Linked DNA regions of Homo sapiens: region 2 is linked to region 1. The links come from fine-mapping of genetic effects on plasma protein levels. Region 1 holds a variant in brackets. A gene starts in the other region. All regions are shown on their forward strands. Region 1 holds the start of LOC124902853 (a long non-coding RNA gene). Region 2 holds the start of CCL25 (C-C motif chemokine ligand 25).

What was found. A credible set is the group of variants that fine-mapping cannot tell apart. PIP is the chance, under the fine-mapping model, that this variant and not a neighbour inherited with it causes the effect. Protein levels are from antibody-based Olink assays in UK Biobank. Linkage for the fine-mapping came from a reference panel and not from the study's own genotypes, which makes the PIPs less certain.
Region 2: CCL25 starts here. The variant in region 1 is the best candidate, but not a certain one, in a credible set for the plasma level of the CCL25 protein (UK Biobank, PIP 0.78).

Annotation. Positions count from the first base shown.
Region 1 is chr12:463,052-473,337 of GRCh38, forward strand. All of the region lies in intron 1 of B4GALNT3 (beta-1,4-N-acetyl-galactosaminyltransferase 3), which reads left to right. LOC124902853 (a long non-coding RNA gene) reads left to right here and starts at 8,688. Exons shown (of 2, transcript XR_007063151.1): 1 at 8,688-10,286. The variant T/C (reference allele first, on the strand shown) is at 4,579.
Region 2 is chr19:8,047,439-8,057,724 of GRCh38, forward strand. It overlaps CCL25 (C-C motif chemokine ligand 25), which reads left to right and starts at 5,322. Exons shown (of 6, transcript NM_005624.4): 1 at 5,322-5,384; 2 at 5,562-5,684; 3 at 8,714-8,831; 4 at 8,928-9,061. The coding sequence starts at 5,612. RefSeq lists silencers at 2,875-2,964, 3,265-3,324.

The DNA of each region.
Region 1 (10,286 bases):
AACCAGCTTGTTGGCTCTGCTTTCCAGCAAGCCACCCTGCCTCCCCTCTCTAGCAATCCCTGCCAACTCACTCCACCACCCACCAGCTCCCTGTCATCTGGAAGGCCAGCCCCCATTACCAGGAACCTTTCATTTGCCTGTCCCTGTGTTGGATCTGGTGCTGGAAGAAGAGTATGGAGAGATGGCAGTCACAAACTCCAGGGTTACCAGTAATGACAGGGGAGCATATTTCCTTCTTTATCTTCGTGAAATAACCCAGTAGTTTAAGATGTGGATGATGTGCAATTTGGTTCCATATGCAGAAGGAGATACAACCACAACTGGAGTGGCTTCAGAGAAAAACAACCAAAATCCTTAACAAATAGAAAATTGACAAAAGAATTAGGACTGTTCACGCATTCATTTACACAAATATTTACTTAGCGCATACCTCGAGCCAGGCATTGTGCCAGGCCGTGTAGGTGTGATGACCAGGATGTGGTTTCTAGCATCTACAGCTTCATTTAGGAGGAAAGCTAAGGTGCCTATATCAAAATGGTTGTAATATAAAGCAGTCATTAAGTTTTGCAAACATAGGACGCATATGTTTCTGTGACACCTCTTGAAATGGGGGCACAGCTCTCCCAACTAATATTTCATGGAAATGGTGACATTTTGGGACGTTTTGAAGAGTTGGTAAGATTTTGGTGGATACAGAAAGGCTATTCGAGACAGAAAGAGTTACGTCAACAAAGACCAAGAGTCGGGGAAAGTTTATGTTTGAGAATACTGAGCAGCTGAGTTTGGTGAAACAGAGGGTATAAGAAGAATAGAGGATGATGCTGTATGTGGAAGGCTGAATAAAGACCTTAAAGAGTGGCATTTATTCAGTAGCTAGCAGAAAGCAGTTGAAAGTTTTAGAATACGGCAGCATTGTAGAATGGGACGGGTAAGGGTAACAATACTTTTGGTGTGGCATGGTGGTTCTGGAACAGGGTCCTGACGAGTCCCCTTGTTGAGCCCAACATTAACTCTTTAGCTGCTGGGTCGTGAAGCTGTCCTGGGGAGGGGTCCGGGTGGCAGTGGGACACTCAGAGGGCCTGGGGCAGCCACTGTACTAACACATGCTTAAGGATTTCAGTGTTTTAATAAGTGGTACGGCTATCCTGGTGTGTACTGGCTGAAAAGCAGCCCTGGGAACAAATTGTTATTGGAAGTTAAAGATTCTCCAATTAGGCAGGTTTTCACAAGTTATATACCCATTTGTTCATATTGGATCAGCAAAGATTCTATCTGAAGGCAGAGTTCTGGACTAGAGGCCGGGGGTGGTGGCTCACACCTGTAATCCCAGCACTTTGGGAGGCCGAGGCGGGCAGATCATTTGAGGTCAGGAGTTCGAGACCAGCCTGGCCAACATGGCAAAACCCCATCTCTACTAAAAAAGATTAAAAAAATACCCAGGCATGGTGGCGCACACCTGTAATCCCAGATACTGGGGAGGCTGAGGCAGGAGAATTGCTTAACTCAGGAGGCAGAGGTTGCAGTGAGCTGAGATTGCACCACTGTACTCCAGCCTGAGTGACAGAGCGAGACTCTACTTAAAAAAAAAAAATGGTTTCTAGAGATGAAATATCTCAGAGCCAAGGGATGACATTTGGGCGCAAATCCAAGACAGAAGGATGGCATGTGCTGGCTCCTTTTAGATCTCCCATTTAAGTGCCAGGATTACTTGCTGGATCCCAAAGTATTCTGAAGCTCAGGAAGCCGTTGGCTTTCGCTGCCTTACCTCTATCTGTACCACATCTCTCTGGTTGGCCTTTGTGACTTCTGGCTGACTCGAGTGGGCTGAGGGAGGCACACCCGCGGTGTGAGGCAGTGACTGCAGCTCTGGCCACCACAGCCGTTCTGATTTGGAAAGGATACAAACCCTCCAGTGAGAGAGGTAATGCAGGGCACAGCAGTAATCTGAGATGCAGGCAGGGAGAGAGGGAGAAGCAAATGAGACAGATGTGTGGGCAGAGGAGGGATAGTGTGGCATGGAGTTGAAACCCAGTGAAGCAGCAAGCACAACCGCCTCGTGTGCTCCTGTGGGCAGGGACTGTGTCTCATGCAGCTCTGGTGGGTGTGTGCCTCTCTGTCCCAGGGAACCTCCTTTTCACGTGGTTTACCTCTCGTGTAGCTCCTTTTCACGTGTCCGGTTTATCGCTCTTTATGCTGATATTCCAGTCACCAGGCTACTATGTGTGTCTTCTAATCAACTTTCAATTCTGGGCACATACTAGGCGCTCAGATAAGTACCTTCTCGTTATGAATGTGTCAGCTCTGAATTTCCAAGCACCTGATATTTTCCACTGGCAGATACTGTGTTTATCAGGGACTGATCCAAGAATAGAACCTAGGAATTCTTGTTCCCTGTACCATAATACATATACACAACAATAGCCTTTGAATACAAATACAGAAGATAAGCGATAAGACATCAATGGTTTTTTTTTTTTTAATCATAAGCGTATTTTCTTTGGGCATTGCCTATACGAGGAATGCAGTTTTTGACAATAGGTGACCTTACCCATATTTAGAGTCTCTCCTTTCCCTGGTCTCTCAGTCCCTGTGCTGATGTGGCCGGCGAACCTCAGCAACACATCTGCCATCTTTACCCTGCCTACTACCCAGGGACCCTCAAGTTGAGGTCCCATTCCCCTGCTTGATGGTGCTGGGGCTGCCTGCCACTCCCTGTCCTGGGAGTTGAGGTCCCATTCCCCTGCTTGATGGTGCTGGGGTTGCCTGCCACTCCCTGTCCTGGGAGTTGAGGTCCCATTCCCCTGCTTGATGGTGCTGGGGCTGCCTGCCACTCCCTGTCCTGGGGGTTGAGGTCCCATTCCCCTGCTTGATGGTCCTGGGGCTGCCTGCCACACTCCCTGTTCTGGGAGTTGAGGTCCCATTCCCCTGCTTGATGGTGATGGGGTTTCCTGCCACTCCCTGTCCTGGGAGTTGAGGTCCCATTCCCCTGCTTGATGGTGCTGGGGTTGCCTGCCACTCCCTGTCCTGGGAGTTGAGGTCCCATTCCCCTGCTTGATGGTGCTGGGGCTGCCTGCCACTCCCTGTCCTGGGAGTTGTTCAGACGCTGTGCATGGTTATAACTGCTTTGTAGCACAAGGTCTTCTGAAAGTGCTTCCGTGCTGGCTTCTGGAGAGGCTGGTAAGTACGCTGCAGTAATTTTCCAGGCCATGGAGCCTGGGCTTGCCCTCTAGTGCTGAGCTTTGTGGAGCAGAGCAGAGCAGCCGACATAGCAGAGTTTGCTTTGGAAGGGGTCCTAGAGGCTGTTCTTGGAGTTGGCCGCTCGCTGTCTAGTTCTCCTCTGCAGCGTTCCACCAGTCTCAAAAACTACGCTTTTATTTTCCACAAGCACTTTTCGTTATATGTAAAGATTATGTGGTCTCAACTAGGCCAACCAGACATTTGGAGTTTTCAGACAATTCTTTGACCTTGTGATTCACATAATTAATAGATTTATATGTTAACCACTATACAAAAATGCGAGTGGAAGAGGTGAGAATAGTCGGATAGTGGCTCTAAAGGGCACTGGGCTGCATGTGTTGTATATTCTGAGCAAAGTGTGACAGATCTTTAAATTTTTGCAGACTCAAGTTAACAAGTGCTACTTTGAATTTAGAAGTATCCATTGGATGAGCAAAAATGAATATTCTTTGTATTCTTGTAATATTTTAGTATATAATTTATTTTTATGTTCAATATGTTCTTTATTTCATAACTACAAAAGGCCTGATACTGACCAACTTTTAAGAAAATAAACATGCAAATCGTCCCTGTGGTTCCTCTTTTTTTTCAAGTATATGTACGGAAAGCTTGATGAGCAGTTTTCACAAACTGAAAATACCTGTGTTGGGAGCACCACGATGAAGACACAGAGTATTACCAGTACCCCAGTACCCCGGTGGGGGCGGTGCTATGAATCACTACCATCAGCATAGATTAGTTTAGCATATTTTAATATTTTATATAAATGGAATAATACAGATTGTGGTTCTTTTTTTATTAGCAATTTTTTAAATTAAATTAATGAAAGTATTTTTTGAGACTGAGTCTTACTCTGTCTCTCAAGCCAGAGTGCAGTGGTGTGATCTTAGCTTATGCAGCCTTGAACTCCTGGGCTCAGTGACAGGAGTGAGCCACTGTGCTCGGCCTCATTTTAAAATGATATTCTTTATGATGATAAAAATAATGCAGCCAGGTGTGGTGGCTCACACCTGTAATCCCAGCACTTTGGGAGGCCAAGGTGGGCAGATCACTTGAGGTCAGGAGTTCGAGACCAGCCCGGCCAACATGATGAAAGCCCATCTCTACTACAACTACAAAAAGTAGCTGGGTGTGGTGGTGTGTGCCTGTAGTCCCAGCTACTCGGGAGGCTGAGGCACAAGAGTCGCTTGAACCTGGGAAGCAGAGGCTGCAGTGAGCCAAGATGGCGCCACTGCACTCCAGCCTGGGTGACAGCAAGACTGTGTCTTAAATAAATAAATAAACAAAATAAAATAGGGATAAAAATAATCCATGCTTATTATACTAGACAACAGCTGTGTA[T/C]CTGGACCACATTAACCCTGCGAAAGCACTTTTTTGCCTTTAGGCACCACAGCATCACTAACAAAATAACCTAAGGCCAAGGAAGACCAGGGGCCTCAAGACTGCAGGATACATAGTAGCCTCTGGAATTCTCCAGTAGCACCCTGCCAGGGTGGAGTTGAGAACTGTTGCTCATTCCTGTATGAGAACGCTCTAAACATGTTTCTTCTGGTCTTGGTCTTAGAAACAGCTGTGCTTCTCTTGAGCGGTTTGTTTTAATTTCTATTGGTCACGTAAGTTGCATAATCACTCAGATTTCTCTCGTCGTGTTGGTTACTAGGAAGCTTTAGGGTTCAGTTTTTTCTTCACCTGGAGAAAAGTGTAAAGGATTTTATGATCTGTATTTTTCTACTAATTTTATGACTGTACCTTTATTTTATCTCCCCACTCCCACAACTAACTACTTCCAGTTTATGTCATCTTATCTTATATGGTCATTGTAAACTACTTTAGTTTTTCCTGGACCAAATCAAGGCATAAAATAAATCAACAAAAGTGCTATGGTATACATACAAATATGAAGAAGAAATGAACAATCACCTAAAATGTCACCACTCTGACCTAGACATTGTTGAAAAAATGAAGTGTAATAAGCAGTGATAAGCAGATGTTGGATTCCAGGATGCCTTAGACAAAAAGTCTGGATTTAAAAACTTAAAAAGCCAAAAAAGTATTGCCCTGACCTTTTTGGGGGTCTTTATTTAGGTACTGAAAAGTTGAATCACATCCACAAATAAATTATTACGTCTTTCCATATAAGAAGACTACCAAAAGCTTAGAATTTACTGACAGATATTGGGGACTGAGCCACTTTTGTTGAAAACAGTGACACCATACAAGGCAAATTCAATAAAATTGGAGGCATCCTTGACACTACCGAGAGAACAGCCGAGAGACTGGCCAGGAAGGCCAGAAACCTGGTGTGTCATGTGGGCACCCATCCCTGCAAAGGTCTCACACCAGCTCCTCACACCAGCAAGGACACCTCAACATGAAGATCTATGGCTGCTGCCAGCCTGTGGCTTTTGGATGCATAAAGTCACAAACTAATTTAGAGACCTAGCCCCTGTATTAGCAGCTGAGAATCCCTGCCCAGGGAATAGACTTCATGTGTCTCTTCCACCCATTTCTTCTTTGAAATTGTGTTCTCGTGGTGCCTAGCAGAGGCTATGTGTGTGTCTCACTCTGCACAGCTCACATTCTGCTTTGTGGCCACACGACCCAGGAAGAGGGCCCACAAATGGACGAGAATAGAGAGAGGTGGGAGTGGAAATAGAGAAACCACATTCCAGGCCGACCAAAGACTTTATGTATAAATGCTCAGGAAATTGAACGTTGTGTATTCTGCAGTTTTTATTTATTTTGTAAACCTTGAGTGGCTGCAGAAGTGATTCATTCTAAACTTAAAGCAGAATGTTTATGGAGCATTTACTTTTTGTGGCAGACTCTGAGTGGACTGAAAAGCATTGATAATTCCTGGAAAAACTGTGGAGTCTGAAGGCAGGGCAAGGTTCCAGTTCAAGCGCCATGACTCACCAATCGTGAGACCTTGTAGGAAGGTACTTATTCCTTTGTAAGTCTCGGGAGCCTTGTCTGGGTAGTGGAGCTATAATGCTGTTCCCGTAGAACTTTCCTTATGACTAAATGAGGTTTAGTGAGCCGAGCACATATTAGGATCTCAATGAATATTGGTTCCCATCTCCTCCCTCTCAGTCTGATAGGAATTAGAGAATGGCTGGGCAGGAGGGGACAAATAGACACATTCCTCAACTGGCCCTTTTTCCAGTGCTTCTTAAACTTCTCAGCCCATGACACAGCTGTGTCCAGTACCCCAGCATTACTGTGCCATCCATATCCAGCACTTGCCACCAAATACACATTCTTCAATCACTTTTTTCCTCCATGATGTTCAGCAATGCCTGCATCTTTCCATCCCAGGCAAAGATTTATATTAGGGGTGGGGGCCAGGTTAGGAGTCAAGGATTTTGCGGAGAACGAGAGCTGTCTGGGGGGCTGTACCAGGACACAGAAGCACAGCAACTGGGAAGCGATAGCCTCTCACTCTGCTGCATACCCCTGTGTACACACTGGGATTTCTGGGACTAAAAGGCAGGAACACCTGGCAGTTATCTCATTATTTATTTATTTTTAAAAAATTTTGTTTTTAGAGATGGGGTCTCACTATGTTGCTCAGGCTGGTCCTGAACTCTTAGGCTCAAGGGATCCTCCCACCTCAGCCTTCCAAAGTGCTGAGATTACAGGCATGAGCCACCGCGCATGGCCAGTTAATGTACACCGTGCATGGCCAGTGTACATCCTAGCTTTGTAACTAATTTGCCTGGTTTCCTGTCTACAGGAAATCAGTTTACCTGTAACTAATTTCCTGTCCTTTTGAGGGCTTCAGTTCCATAATCTTTGGAGTGAGATGCTTCCTTGCAGGAGTAGATTTGGAAGTTGCGCACGTCACTAAGGGGTGAAAGGGACAGTCGGAAGGGAATATCTTTGACATCTGGCCCTGGTCTTTCAAGGCTCAGTCGCCTGAACCGAGAGGTGGCAGCTCTCCCAATAGTTCTGACTGCTTTCGCCTCCAAGGTCATCTCTGACAACATGGTCTCCGTACAAGCAGTTGCCTAAAAGATTAAAGGCCTCCCTGCTGAGATCTTCTTACAAATCCTCTGATCCACTGCTTTCCACCCTGCCTGCCAAGCCCAGGTTCAAACGAATGTGTGCAGTGTGTGCTCACGCACACCTCCCTCACCAGCCAGCTGGTCCCGACTGCTCACCAGCACCTCTTAGCAAAGGTGGGCAGGAGGATGAGGACGTGGAGGATTCCCTCATGGACCAGGCACACAGCGCAATACGTACTCTCTGTCCCGGGTCTCCTTTCTTCCCATTTCAGCTGAGTAGAGGGCCTGGGAAAGGGCAGTGGAGATGGGCAGCACGTCCCAGGTGAATGACTTCCGATAGCAGAAGGCAGGGGACGTTGCACAGGCACAGAAAATGGGTAGAGAAATGAGGGAACGAAATGGAGGGAGAGACCGCTACCCCATTTTTTCATTTTAGTGACTGTTTTGTTTTGTTTTGTTTTGAGATGGAGTCTCGCTCTGTCACCCAGGCTGAAGTGCAGTGGCACGATCTCGGCTCACTCTAACCTACGTCCCCCAGGTTCAAGACATTCTCCTGCCTCAATCTCCCGAGTAGCTGGGATTACAGGCATGTGTCACCATGCCCAGCTAATTTTTGTATTTTTAGGTTTCGCCATGTTGGTCAGGCTGGTCTCGAACTCCTGACCTCAGGTGATGCGCCCGCCTCAGCCTCCCAAAGTGCTGGGATTACAGGCGTGAGCCACCGTGCCCAGTGTAGTGACTGTATTTTTCATATCTGTAAGTTTTATTTTGTTCTATTTCAAATTTGTTGGGTTTTTAAACACTACATTGTGGCTGGGCGCGGTGGCTCACACCTGTAATCACAGCACTTTGGGAGGCTGAGGCAGGCAGAGTTCGAGGTCAGGAGTTTGAGATCAGCCAGGCCAACATGGCAAAACCCTGTCTACTAAAAATACAAAAATTAGCTGGACGTGGTGGCACATGCCTGTAATCCAAGCTACTCGGGAGGCTGAGGCTGGAGAATCGCTTGAACCCAGGAGGCGGAGGTTTCAGGGAGCTGATTTTGTGCCACTGCACTCCAACGTGGGTGACAGAGTGAGACTCTGTCTCAATAAATAAATAAATAAATAAATAAATAAATAAATAAATAGGCTGGGCACGGTGGCTCATGCCTGAAATCCTGGCACTTTGGGAGGCCGAGGTGGGTGGATCACCTGAGGTCATGAGTTCAAGACCAGCCTGGCCAACATGGTGAAACCCCGTCTCTACTAAAAATACAAAAATTAGCTGGGCATGAGATTACATGCCTGTAATCTCAGCTACTTGGGAGGCTGAGGCAGGAGAATTGCTTGAACCTGGGAGGCAGAGGTTGCAGTGAGCCAAGATTATGCCATTGCACTACTGCCTGGGCAACAGAGCAAGACTCTGTCTCAAAATAATAATAAAAAATAAATAAATAAATAAATATAAATAAACTACATCATTCTTCTGCATTTAAAAAATTTAAAACAAATTTATTTAATTATCTAAAATTGTTGGTTGCAAGAGGCTGCCAATATGTTAGCATCTGCTTACTGCTCTGATTTTTACATCTTCAAATTTGGCTGCTGGAGATTCTCTTACCTTGTGGAGGGCTTTACTATGTAAATAAAACAGCAGTTTGTCATACTTCATCTAGCATTTTTAATATTTTGCTGTGGGTATTTTCCAAAAGGAAGTCCTCTGGCTTGAATTTCTAATACCTCCTCCAGCGACAGCAGGCTGTTGTTATTCGGGTGTGTGTGTCTAAGCAAAGGTGAATATTTCCATTTGAGGAATATAGCATAAGCTAAGTGGAAAGTCTGGGGAATACAAACTTTTGTAGGGAACACAAGTTCTGTAGTGCAGAGGCTTGAAGGAGATGAAGATGAAATGGTAGTTGCAACCTCATTGTGGACTCTCCTGAGGGCCAGGTTGCTGAGTTTGGACTTGGTAGGGAGCAACATACATTTATTTTATTGATTAACTGATGTTTTTTATTTTTAGAGACAGTGTCTCAGTCTGTTGCCCAGCCTGGAGTTTGGTGGCATGATCATGGCTCGCTGCAGTCTCAAACTCTTGGACTCAAACAATCACCCCACCTCAGCCTCCCAAGTAGGCAAGACTGCAGGTGCATGCCACCATGCCTGCTTATTTTATTTTATTTATTTTTTGAGACGGAGTCTCGCTCTTTCGCCCAGGCTGGTGCATCTTGGCTCACTGCAAGCTCCGCCTCCCGGGTTCACGCCATTCTCCTGCCTCAGCCTCCCGAGTAGCTGGAACTACAGGTGCCCGCCACCACGCCTGGCTAATTTTTTGTATTTTTAGTAGAGGCGGGGTCTCACAGTGTTAGCCAGGATGGTCTCGATCTCCTGACCTCATGATCCGCTGGCCTTGGCCTCGCAAAGTGCTGGGATTACAGGCGTGAGCCACCGCGCCCGACCTATGCCTGCTAATTTTAAAATTTTCTTTGTAGAGACAGAGTCTCACTATGTTGCCTAGGCTGGTTCAAACTCTTGGACTCAAGCAATATTTTTGCGTCTATCTCCAAAACTGCTGGGATTACAGGCACAAGCCACTGTGACTGTGTCTAGCCAACATAAATTGTTTAAAGCAGGAGTTTGATATGGAGGGAGTGTTTTCTTTTTTTCATCCACTGATTTGTACTTTAATTGTTCAAACACTTTTTTTTTTTTTTTTTTTTGGATACAGAATCTTGCTTTTTCACCCAGGCTGGAGTCTAGTGGTTCACTGCAGCCTCGACTTCTTCAGCTTAAGCAATCCTCCTGCCTTGGCCTCCCTAGTAGCTAAGACCACAGGCATACACCACCATGCCTAGCTAATTTTTAAACTTTTTGTAAAGATGGGCCTCAGTATGTTGTCCAGACTGGTCTTGAACACCTGGGCTCAAGCAATCCTCTTTCCTCAGCCTCCCAAAGTGCTGAGATTACAGGCGTGAGCCACCCCACTGCCTTTAAATACTTACCAACCCCTTCTACATCCCAGGAACTTGTGACTGTAGGTTGATTAGGCTGTTGGAAGTTT
Region 2 (10,286 bases), not on the chromosome of region 1:
GTTCAAGGCTGCAGTGAGCCATAACAACATCACTGTACTCCAGCCTGGTGGACAAACTGAGACTCTGTCTAAAAAAAAAAAAAAAAAAAAAAAAGGCAACGAACAGATCCAGGCAGATAATCAGTAAGGAAACATTGGATTTGAAATGCACTGTAGATCAAATGGAACTAATGACATATGTAGAACATTCCATTTGACAGCAGCGGAACGCACATTCTCCTCAAGTGCACAGGGGACATACTCCAGGATAGATCATGTTAGACCACAAAGCAAGCCTGAACAAATGTAAGATTGCCAGGTGCGGTGGCTCACACTTGTAATCCCAGCACTTTGGGAGGTCAAGGCGGGTGGATGACGAGGTCAGGAGATCGAGACCAGCCTGACCAACATGGTGAAACCCCGTCTCTACTAAAAATACAAAAAATTAGCCAGGTGTGGTGGTGGCGGGCGCCTGTAGTCCCAGCTACTTGGGAGGCTGAGGCAGGAGAATGGCGTGAACCCGGGAGGTGGAGCTTGCAGTGAGCCGAGATGGTGCCACTGCACTCCAGCCTGGGCAACAGAGTGAGACTCCGTCTCAACAACAACAACAAAAAAACAAATGTAAGATTGCGATTGTATCAAGTATCTTTTCTGACCACAGTGATACGAAACTAGAGATCAATAACAGGAGGAATTCTGGAAAATTCACACGTGAGAATTCAACAACACTCTCCTAAACAACCAATGTGTCAAAGAAGAAATTAAAACGAAATTAAAAAATATCTTGAGGCCAGGTGCAGTGGCTCACGCCTGTAATCCCAACACTTTGGTGGCTGAGGCAGGAGGATCACCTGAAGCCAGGAGTTCAAGACCAGCCTGGGCAACATAGTGAGACGCTCCCCCCATCTCTACAAAAAATAAAAATAATTAGCCAGGCATGGTGATGCTCACCTGTAGTCCCAGTTATTTGGGAGGCTAAGGTGGGAGGAACACTTGAGTTGGAGGCTGCAGTGAGCTACGATTGTGCCACTGCACTCAGCCTGGGTGATAGAGGGAGATGTTTCTAAAAACAAAATAAAACAAACAGAAACAACAACAACAAAAAACTTGAGACAAACTGAAATGGACATACAATATACCTAAACCAATGAATGCAGCAAAAGTGGTTCTAAGAGGGAAGTTTATAGCAATAAATAAATGCCTACATAAAAAAGAAGAAAGATCTTTCAAATAACCAAATTCTCTTTAAAAAGAGGTAACTGGAGGCTGGGCATGGTGGCTCAAGCCTGTAATCCCAGCACTTTGGGAGGCCAAGGCCAGCAGGTCACTTGAGGTCAGGAGTTCGAGACCAGCCTGGGCAACATAGTGAAATGTAGTCTCTCCTAAAAATACAAAAATTAGCCAGACATGGTGGTAGGCGCCTGTAGTCCCAGCTACTCGGGAGGCTGAGGCAGGAGAATCGCTTCAACCCGGGAGGTGGAGGTTGCAGTAAGCCAAGATCCTGCCACTGCACTCCAGCCTGGGCAACAGAGCAAGACTCTGTCTCGAAAAAAAAAAAAAAAAGAGGCAGCTGTGGGTACAACAGGAGTCCAGGCCTGGCAGACGGGGCTCCTGGGGTGTGGATTGCTCCCTACAAGACTCGTGACCATGCAGGGCAGTGGGGGCCCATCAGAAGCCAAGAGTCTCATCAGGGACCTGGAGGCACCAGAGTTCAGGAGAGCTGCAGGCAGCTGGGGTCTGATATGCAAAAGTGACTACAGGAGGACCCCCACTTCTGCCCATAGTGTTCTCCCAGTGCCCCTGAGCCTTTGCCGATGACCTCCCAGTCATCTGCTCTATGGCGCTTCCCCATTGGGGGACTGTCCTTTTCTTCACAGTATTTAAGAAATAAAAATTAGATTTTCCTGGCCAACAAAAAAAGTAAGTAACTTGGCTTCTCTGACCCTCAATCTCCTCCTTTGCACAGTTGGGCCAATGGTGAGCACCCAGGAGCATCCTTCATCCCACTAGAGGTGCCTGCCACTGGGTAGGGCAGATGTGGTGGTGGCTGGTGCAGGCTTCCCAGAACATCTCATCGCCCCTGCCCACCACCTGGCCACTGCAACCAACTGGGCTTGTCTAGAAAGACACCTGCCTACCCACCCAACCCTGCAGGCTCTGGGGTATTGGTCTCTGAATTTGGCTGAGCTACAGGATGGAGACCACCCTCAACTGCTCCCATCATCAGAGGTGCAGAACAGAAGTCGGTGTGGGGGGCACTTGTTCCCCCCAGCTGTGCTGATTTCACACTGGCGGAGAAGAGGACCCTTGCTGATAGCGGACTGCTCTTTTATTTTTTTATGAGATGGAGTTTTGCTCTTGTTGCCCAGGCTGGAGTGCAATGGCAAGATCTTGGCTCACTGCAACTTCCACTTCCTGGGTTCAAGCAATTCTCCTGCCTCAGCCTCCCAAGTAGCTGGGATTACAGGTGCGCACCACCATGCCCGGCTATTTTTTTTTTTTTTTTGTATTTTTAGTAGAGATGGGGTTTCACCATGTTGGCCAGGCTGATCTCGAACTCCTGACCTCAGGTGATCCGCCCGCCTCGGCCTCCCAAAGTGCTGGGATTACAAGTGTGAACCACTGCTCCCGGCCGATAGCGGATTACTCTTAATGCCCCCAGCTGCTGCAGGAGTGGAAGAGGCCAGTCCAGCCCCGACTGTGAAGGTCTGGCCTTTACTCAAAGCAACTGTGGTCCTCAGAACTCCGGGATCATCCCGTTTCTTGCTCCAACCCCTGGGTCCCAGGTCCCCAGCGCGCCCACCCCAGTGCTCCGTGCTTGCTGGTCCCTGGAGGGCCCCCTTACTGGGAACCCTTCCTCCCCGTGAAGGCTGCCGGCGGGACAAACAGTGAGGGGTGAGGCAGGGAGGGAGACTCACGTTGGGGACCTCCCCCAAGTCTGGGTAACACCGTCTTGGCCGCGGCCCGCGGGTTGGGAAGGTAGGGGGCAGTGAGCCGTAGCGGAGAGGCTGGCCCCAGCCCGCCACGCCGCTTCCCCACGCTCGCAGCCACGCGGAGCCGCGTCCTGGTCCAGCCTCACCCACCCAGAGCAAGAGGCGGAGGAACTGGAACAGCGCCCCGGCCCGTGGGCTGCCACTGGCCGCAGCAACGGGACGGGTGAGAGCACCTGCCCCCGACGCGTCTTAACTGCTCTGGTGGGGCGGGGCTGACCGTGCAAGCCCCGCCCCAGTCTAAGCCCCTCCTACAAAGCCCGGCCCCTTACCATAAGCGCCATCTGTCAGGCTCCGCCCACTGTCTTAAATCCCACTCACTCTGCCCTGCCCCTGACTCGGAGCCATATAGCAAGCCCCGCCCATAGCCATAAGCCACGCCCACCCAGCCCTGCCCCTGGGCTCTAAGTGTCATTTATCTAGTCACGTCCCCGGCTAGAAGCCACACCCACCAGGCCCGGCCCCACCTCTAAGCCCCACTCACCCGGCCATGTGGTTTGGGACAGGGAAGTAGGCTAGGGGCCGCCGCCTCTGGGCTCCCAGTGGAAGGGGAGAAATGAGAAAGGAGTTTAGGATGTGATAAATACCCACAGAGGTCAGATGTAGCTATGGATGCAGGCGATAAAAAGTTTAAAGCAATCAGCTGTGCGGCCTCTGCAGCGCTCCTTTCGCCCTCCCTAATCTTCACCTCGTGTCTCCCCCAGTCCCTGTGTCCTGGCTGGGTCCTGCTGCCCCAGGGAAAGAAGACATGCCTTCTCCCATCCTGGCTAACATGGTGAAACCCCGTCTCTACTAAAAATACAAAAAATTAGCCAGGCGTGGTGGCGGGAGCCTGTAGTCCCAGCTACTCGGGAGGCTGAGGCAGGAGAATGGCGTGAACCCGGGAGACGGAGCTTGCAGTGAGCCGAGACAGCGCCACCGCACTCCAGCCTGGGCAAAAGAGCAAGACTCCGTCTCAGAAGAAAAAAAAAAAAGACATGCCTTCTCGGTGAATGTTGCTTTGCTTCCTGAGGGCATGGCTACCCGGGGCTCCTGGCTTTTCTTCCAAAAACAAAACATTTCTTCCATTTTTTCTTTTTCTTTTGTTTTTTTTTTTTTTTTTTTTTTTGAGACAGAGTTTCACTCTTGTCGCCCAGGCTGGAATGCAGTGGCCCAATCTCGGCTCACTGCAACCTCCGCCTCCCGGGTTCAAGCGATTCTCCTGCCTCAGCCTCCTGAGTAGCTGGAATTACAGGTGCCCCCCCACCACACTCGGCTAATTTTTGTAATTTTAGTAGAGATGGGGTTTTGCCATGTTGGCCAGGCTGGTCTCGAACTCCTGACCTCAGAGGATCCGCCTGCCTCGGCCTCCCAAAGTGCTGGTATTACAGGTGTGAGCCACTGTGTCCGGCCACCGTTTTTTTTTCCATTTTTTGAGACAGGGTCTTGCTCTGTTGCCCAGGCTGGAGTGCAGTGGCATGATCACAGCTCACTGCAGCCTCAACCTCCAAGGCTCAAGCAATCCTCACACCTCAGCCTCCTGAGTGGCTGGGACTACAGGTATGCACTACTACGTCAGGCTAATTTTTTAAAAAATTTTTGTAGTGACGCAGGTCTCTCTATATTGCCCGGGGTGGTCTTGAGCTCCTGGGCTCAAGCAATCCTCTGGCCTCGGCCTCCCAAAGTGTTGGGCTTACAGACATGAGCCACCATGCCTGGCCTAGAGAGTTTCTTTCTTGTTGGGGTTGTTCACCGGTGGGAGGTGCACCATTGTGCCGTGCTGACTATATTCATAGAGTTATGTAACCATCACTCTCATCTAATTTCAGAACAAAAGGAAACCCATACCCTCTCACAGTCAGTCCTTCATTCTCCCCTCCCCCCATCCTGTGGCCACCGCTAATTTACTTTCTGTTTCTATGGATTTGCCTGTGATCACAACCAGAGGATTTCTGTGACATGCTAAGTTACCTAACCATGGTGTGGAAGGAGAGGGAAATGGAGTGAAGTTGGGGACCCACCAGGGAACAGGTGGCTTGAGGGCGGGGGGAGCATGAAGGTAAGGGCTTGTTTGGGGGCTCAAGGCAGTCTGAGCCTTGTTCGCAGGCAGCCAGTGTCCACCAGGTGTGTGCAGGTGAGGGAAACAGGGGAAAAGGCCCTTTCTGGAGACAGTAGGGGTGCTGGCTGGGAGGCCTGGGATGGGGAGTGGGGAGGCAAGGGGGCCTGTGGGTCGAGGTTGGAGCTTGCTGTAGAAGAGGGAGAATTCCAGAGGCTGAGAGTGCAGGTGGAGAGGAGGAGGAAGGGAGGAGGGCGGGCAGGGGGTGGCTGGGTGGGGCTCTGTCTATAAAGAGTGAAGCTCAGCGTGTTGGTCCTGCAGATGGGACAGCTTGGCCTACAGCCCGGCGGGCATCAGCTCCCTTGACCCAGTGGATATCGGTGAGTCTTTTCCTTGAACATGACTGAGATGAACAGCTTTTCCCTCCAGCACAACTTGTTCCTACTTTATACAACCTCCTTCCCTTGCCATATGCCTGGGGCTTAAGAGGGGGGATGTTCCCAGTACCCACTCCCCTCCTCTTCCTCAGTCCTTACCACTTCCCTCCACGACCCCAGGTGGCCCCGTTATTCGTCCAGGTGCCCAGGGAGGAGGACCCGCCTGCAGCATGAACCTGTGGCTCCTGGCCTGCCTGGTGGCCGGCTTCCTGGGAGCCTGGGCCCCCGCTGTCCACACCCAAGGTACTGTGTTCGGCAATGCCTACCACCAAGTGCCCCTCTCCCCATGCCCCCACCCCACCCCTTTTGTCTCTTATCTCCTCCGGAAGTCTCCCCAATCCCATCTCCACTGAATTCTCCCGCTCCTGACATGCAGGAACTCCTGGTGTTTGGTTAGCTCTTGGGATGGGGTCGGGGAGATGGAGAGTCCCCAGTTCCTTCTTCGAGAGCCCCATGGAGTCTTTTGCAAGACTCCTAAAGATGTGAGGGAGCAGAGGGTGGCTTCCAGCTGTGGGCAAAGCCAGTTACTGCCAGGGATGTATTGTAGAATCCTAATCCTGCCGAGCCAGGGGTGGGGTTGGAGATCAGGGCCCTGGAGACTGACAAGAGTGGATTCCCATCCTGGTCCCTCCATGCAGTCCAGCTGAGAGTTAGTTGCTCCTAAACCATTTTTTTTTTTTTTTTTTTGAGACAGAGTCTCACTCTGTCACCCTGGCTGGAGTGCAGTGGCGCGATCTTGGCTCACTGCAACCTCCGCCTCCTGGGCTCAAGCGATCCTTCTGCCTCAGCCTCCCAAGTAGCTGGGACTACAGGCGTGTGTACCATGCCCGGCTAATTTTTGTATTTTTTAGTAGAGATGGGGTTTCACTATGTTGGCCAGAGTAGTCTCGATCTCCTGATCTCAGGCGATCCGCCTGCCTCAGCCTCCCAAAGTGCTAGGATTACAGGTTTGAGCCACTGTGCCCGGCTTCCTAAACCTTTAGGAGCCTCCGTTTCCTCAGCTGCAAAGTGGGAATCTAAAATTCCCACTGCATGGCTCTGACTTGAGGGTCCAGTGAGCTCATGCCTGCAAAAGACTAGGCCTCATGTCTGGCGGCGGCAATAGTAACTGTTCCTGTTATTAATAGGGAACTCTTTCCTTCTTCCCCACTCCCTACCGCAGAGCAAGCACTTGAGGATTTCAGTCGCCAAAGGACAATTCCTGGGCCTGGGGTGTCCCCACGGGAGCCCTGACACTGGGTCCTACATCCTCTGAGTTTCAGCAGCTGGCCAAAGCAGGGTCCCTGGCTGGGCGGCAGACCCAGGGTCCCACCCTCCTTCCCTGTCTGCCCCCACCTGACCCACCTGCCCCTCGGCTGGGTCTGATGGGTCCAAGTCCTTGGCCTTTGCCTGGGAAGGGGGTTGGGCTGTGGTCTGATTGTTTTGCTATCAGAGCCAGGCCCAGCCCAGCCCTTCGATCCTGGCCTCCAGCCTTGGGAACTACCTGCCTGGCACTGCAGTCCGAGGTTCCAACAGAATGCGCTGCCCCTTGCCCTCAGAGGCCGCGGTTGGGAGACACCTGGAGGGCTCGAGTCCTCCCTTTCCCTGCTCCTGCTGGGCTGGGCTCTGCAGGGACTCAGACTCGGCCTCTGGAGGTTAGTTCTGGCAGAGGTGAGATTGCAGAGAACTCCAAAGGCCATTTAGGCAGAGAATTGCACCCCAGCTTCCTCCACTATCTCATCAGCTCATCCTCGGCTCATTCATTCCACCTGCTCATCCCCCCAGAACTTTCTGGCATCACCTCCTCCTCCTCTGGGCACCCCCCACAGTGCCTGTGCTTCCCCCTTTCTGCAGAGATCAGTTTCCCGGGAGCTCCCTGAAGACAACACTAGGTCTAATTCATCTGTGTGTTTCATCTCTGCTTGTCTAGACATTGACATTTACTGAGAGCTCTTTACTTTGTATTAAAACAATTTTTTGTTTGTTTGGTTGGTGTTTTGTTTTGTTTCATTGAGACAGAGTTTTGCTATTGTCGCCCAGGCTGGAGTGCAATGGCGTGATCTCGGCTCACTGCAACCTCCACCTCCTGGGTTCAAGTGATTCTCCTGCCTCAGCCTCCAGAGTAGCTGGGATTAAAAGCGCCCACTATCAGCCAGGCACAGTGGCTCACGCCTGTAATCCCAGCACTTTGAGAGGCCAAGGCGGGTGGATCACAAGGTCAAGAGATCAAGACCATCCTGGCCAACATGGTGAAACCCCGTCTCTACTAAAAATACAAAAATTAGCTGGTCGTGGTGGCGGGCGCCTGTAATCCCAGCTACTCGGGAGGCTGAGGCAGGAGAATCGCTTGAACCCGGGAGGCAGAGGTTGCAGTGAGCTGAAATTGAGCCACTGCACTCCAGCCTGGGTGACAGAGTGAGACTCTGGAAAAAAAAAAAAAAAAGGCGCCCACCACCATGCCTGGCTAATTTTTGTTTTTTGTTTTGTTTTGTTTTGAGACGGTGTCTCACTCTGTCGCCCAGGCTGGAGTGCAGTGGCGCGATCTCGGCTCACTGCAAGCTCTGCCTCCCGGGTTCACGCCATTCTCCTGCCTCAGCCTCCCGAGTAGCTGGGACTCCAGGCGCCCACCACCACACCCGGCTAATTTTTATATTTTTAGTAGAGACGGGGTTTCACCGTGTTAGCCAGGATGGTCTCAATCTCCTGACCTCGTGATCCGCCCACCTTGGCCTCCCAAAGTGCTGGGATTAAAGGCATGAGCCACCGCGCCCGGCCTAATTTTTATATTTTTTAGTAGAGACGGGGTTTCACCATATTGGCCAGGCTAGTCTCAAACTCCTGACCTCAGGTGATCCACCCACCTCAGCCTCCCAAAGTGCTGGGTTTACAGGCATGAGCCACTGTGCTGAGCTGCCAATCAGCTCATTTTTAGGAGGGAAGAACTTGGCTGGGGAGGGGTGGTGTTGGCCCCTCCTCACAGTGCACCTGCACTCCGAGTCACCCTTTTCCCCAGAGCAGGAGTAGAGGTGGCCTTGGTCCGTTCATTTGCTGGTTCCACACCCTTCCCAGCCGGGACCCAAGGGTCCTCTCCAACCTCTGGCTGTCCCAATATCCAGGGATAAGGGGTGAGCCAGGAGGCTTTTTCTTTCCTAAGGCTGTTCCTCAGCCTCTGCCGGGCCTGGAAGGGTTGTGGTATGAGCAGACAGGTATGCAGACAGGTGCCCTTGCCTGTGGCTGGCCCTGCCAAGTTAACATGCAAGGGTGCGAGTATCTGGGCGGCTGTGTGGTTGCAGGTGTCTTTGAGGACTGCTGCCTGGCCTACCACTACCCCATTGGGTGGGCTGTGCTCCGGCGCGCCTGGACTTACCGGATCCAGGAGGTGAGCGGGAGCTGCAATCTGCCTGCTGCGATGTGAGTGGGGCCGTGGGGGCTGGGGGGGTGGGGTGCACACACAGCCTTGCTGCCAGCCTACACCCTAACCTGGGCACCCCCCTCTGCTCACCACAGATTCTACCTCCCCAAGAGACACAGGAAGGTGTGTGGGAACCCCAAAAGCAGGGAGGTGCAGAGAGCCATGAAGCTCCTGGATGCTCGAAATAAGGTTTTTGCAAAGCTCCACCACAACACGCAGACCTTCCAAGGTGGGCAAGACCTCTGCTGGGCATCTAGGGGGCCTGCCCTCCCTGCCTGCAAGCCCATGTGTGGTTCAGACCCCGAGGGAGGGAATTGGAGACCAGAATACTGACACCTGCCTGAACCCCAAACAAAGCCAGTTGCTGGTGAGTGGGGCACCAAGTGAATGACCAACTGATTGAGTCATTGTCCAGTTTTTGTTTCTGGAGATGGGGTCTTGCTCTGTTGCCCAGGCTGGAGTGCAGTAGCATGATCATAGCTCACTGCGGCCTCAAACTTGTGGGTTCAAGCAATCCTCCCACTTCAGATTCCCCAAGTAGCTGGGATTACAAGTGTGTGCCACCAGTCCAGCTCTTTTATTATTATTTTGAGACAGAGTCTTACTGTGTCACCCACGCTGGAGTGCAATGGCGCCATCACAGCTCACTGAAGCCTTGACCTCCCAGGCTCAAGCAATCCTCCTACCTCAGCCTCCTGAGTAGCTGGGACTACAGGCATGCTCCACTAATCCAGCTCATTGTTATTTTATTTTTTATTTTTATTTTTTGAGATGGAGTCTTGCTGTGTCATCCAGGCTGGAGTGCAGTGGCACGATCTCGGCTCACTGCAACCTCTGCCTCCTGAATTCAAGCGATTCTCCCGCCTCAGCCCCCTAAGTAGCAGGAGCACAGGCCCACGCCACCACGCCTGGCTAATTTTTGTATTTTTAGTAGAGACGGGGTTTCACCATGTTGGCCAGGCTGGTCTCGAACTCCTGACCTCAGATGATCTGCCCGCCTTGGCCTCCCAAAGCACTGGGATTATAGGCATGAACCACCATGCCTGGCTCCAGCTCATTATTATTATTATTATTTTGAGACAGGGTTTTACTCTTGTCACCCAGGCTGGAGTGCAGTGGCACAATCACATCTCACTGCAGCCTTGTGTTCCTGGGCTCAAGCAATCCTCCCACGTCAGCCTCCCAAGTAGCTGGGATTACAGGCACACACCACCATGCCTGGGTAATTTTTTATTTTCATTTTGCAGAGACAGGTTGTGCCATGTTGCCCAGGCTGGACTTGAACCCCTGGACTCAAGCAATCCACCTGCCTTGGCCTCCCAAAGTGCTGGGACTACAGGCATGAGCCACTGCACCCAGCCAGTCCAGCTCTTTTAATCAGGACACTTTCCACTGGTACAGATGGAAAGCTCAAGCACATGGGAGACTCATTGGCTTAAATAACCAGTCAACAG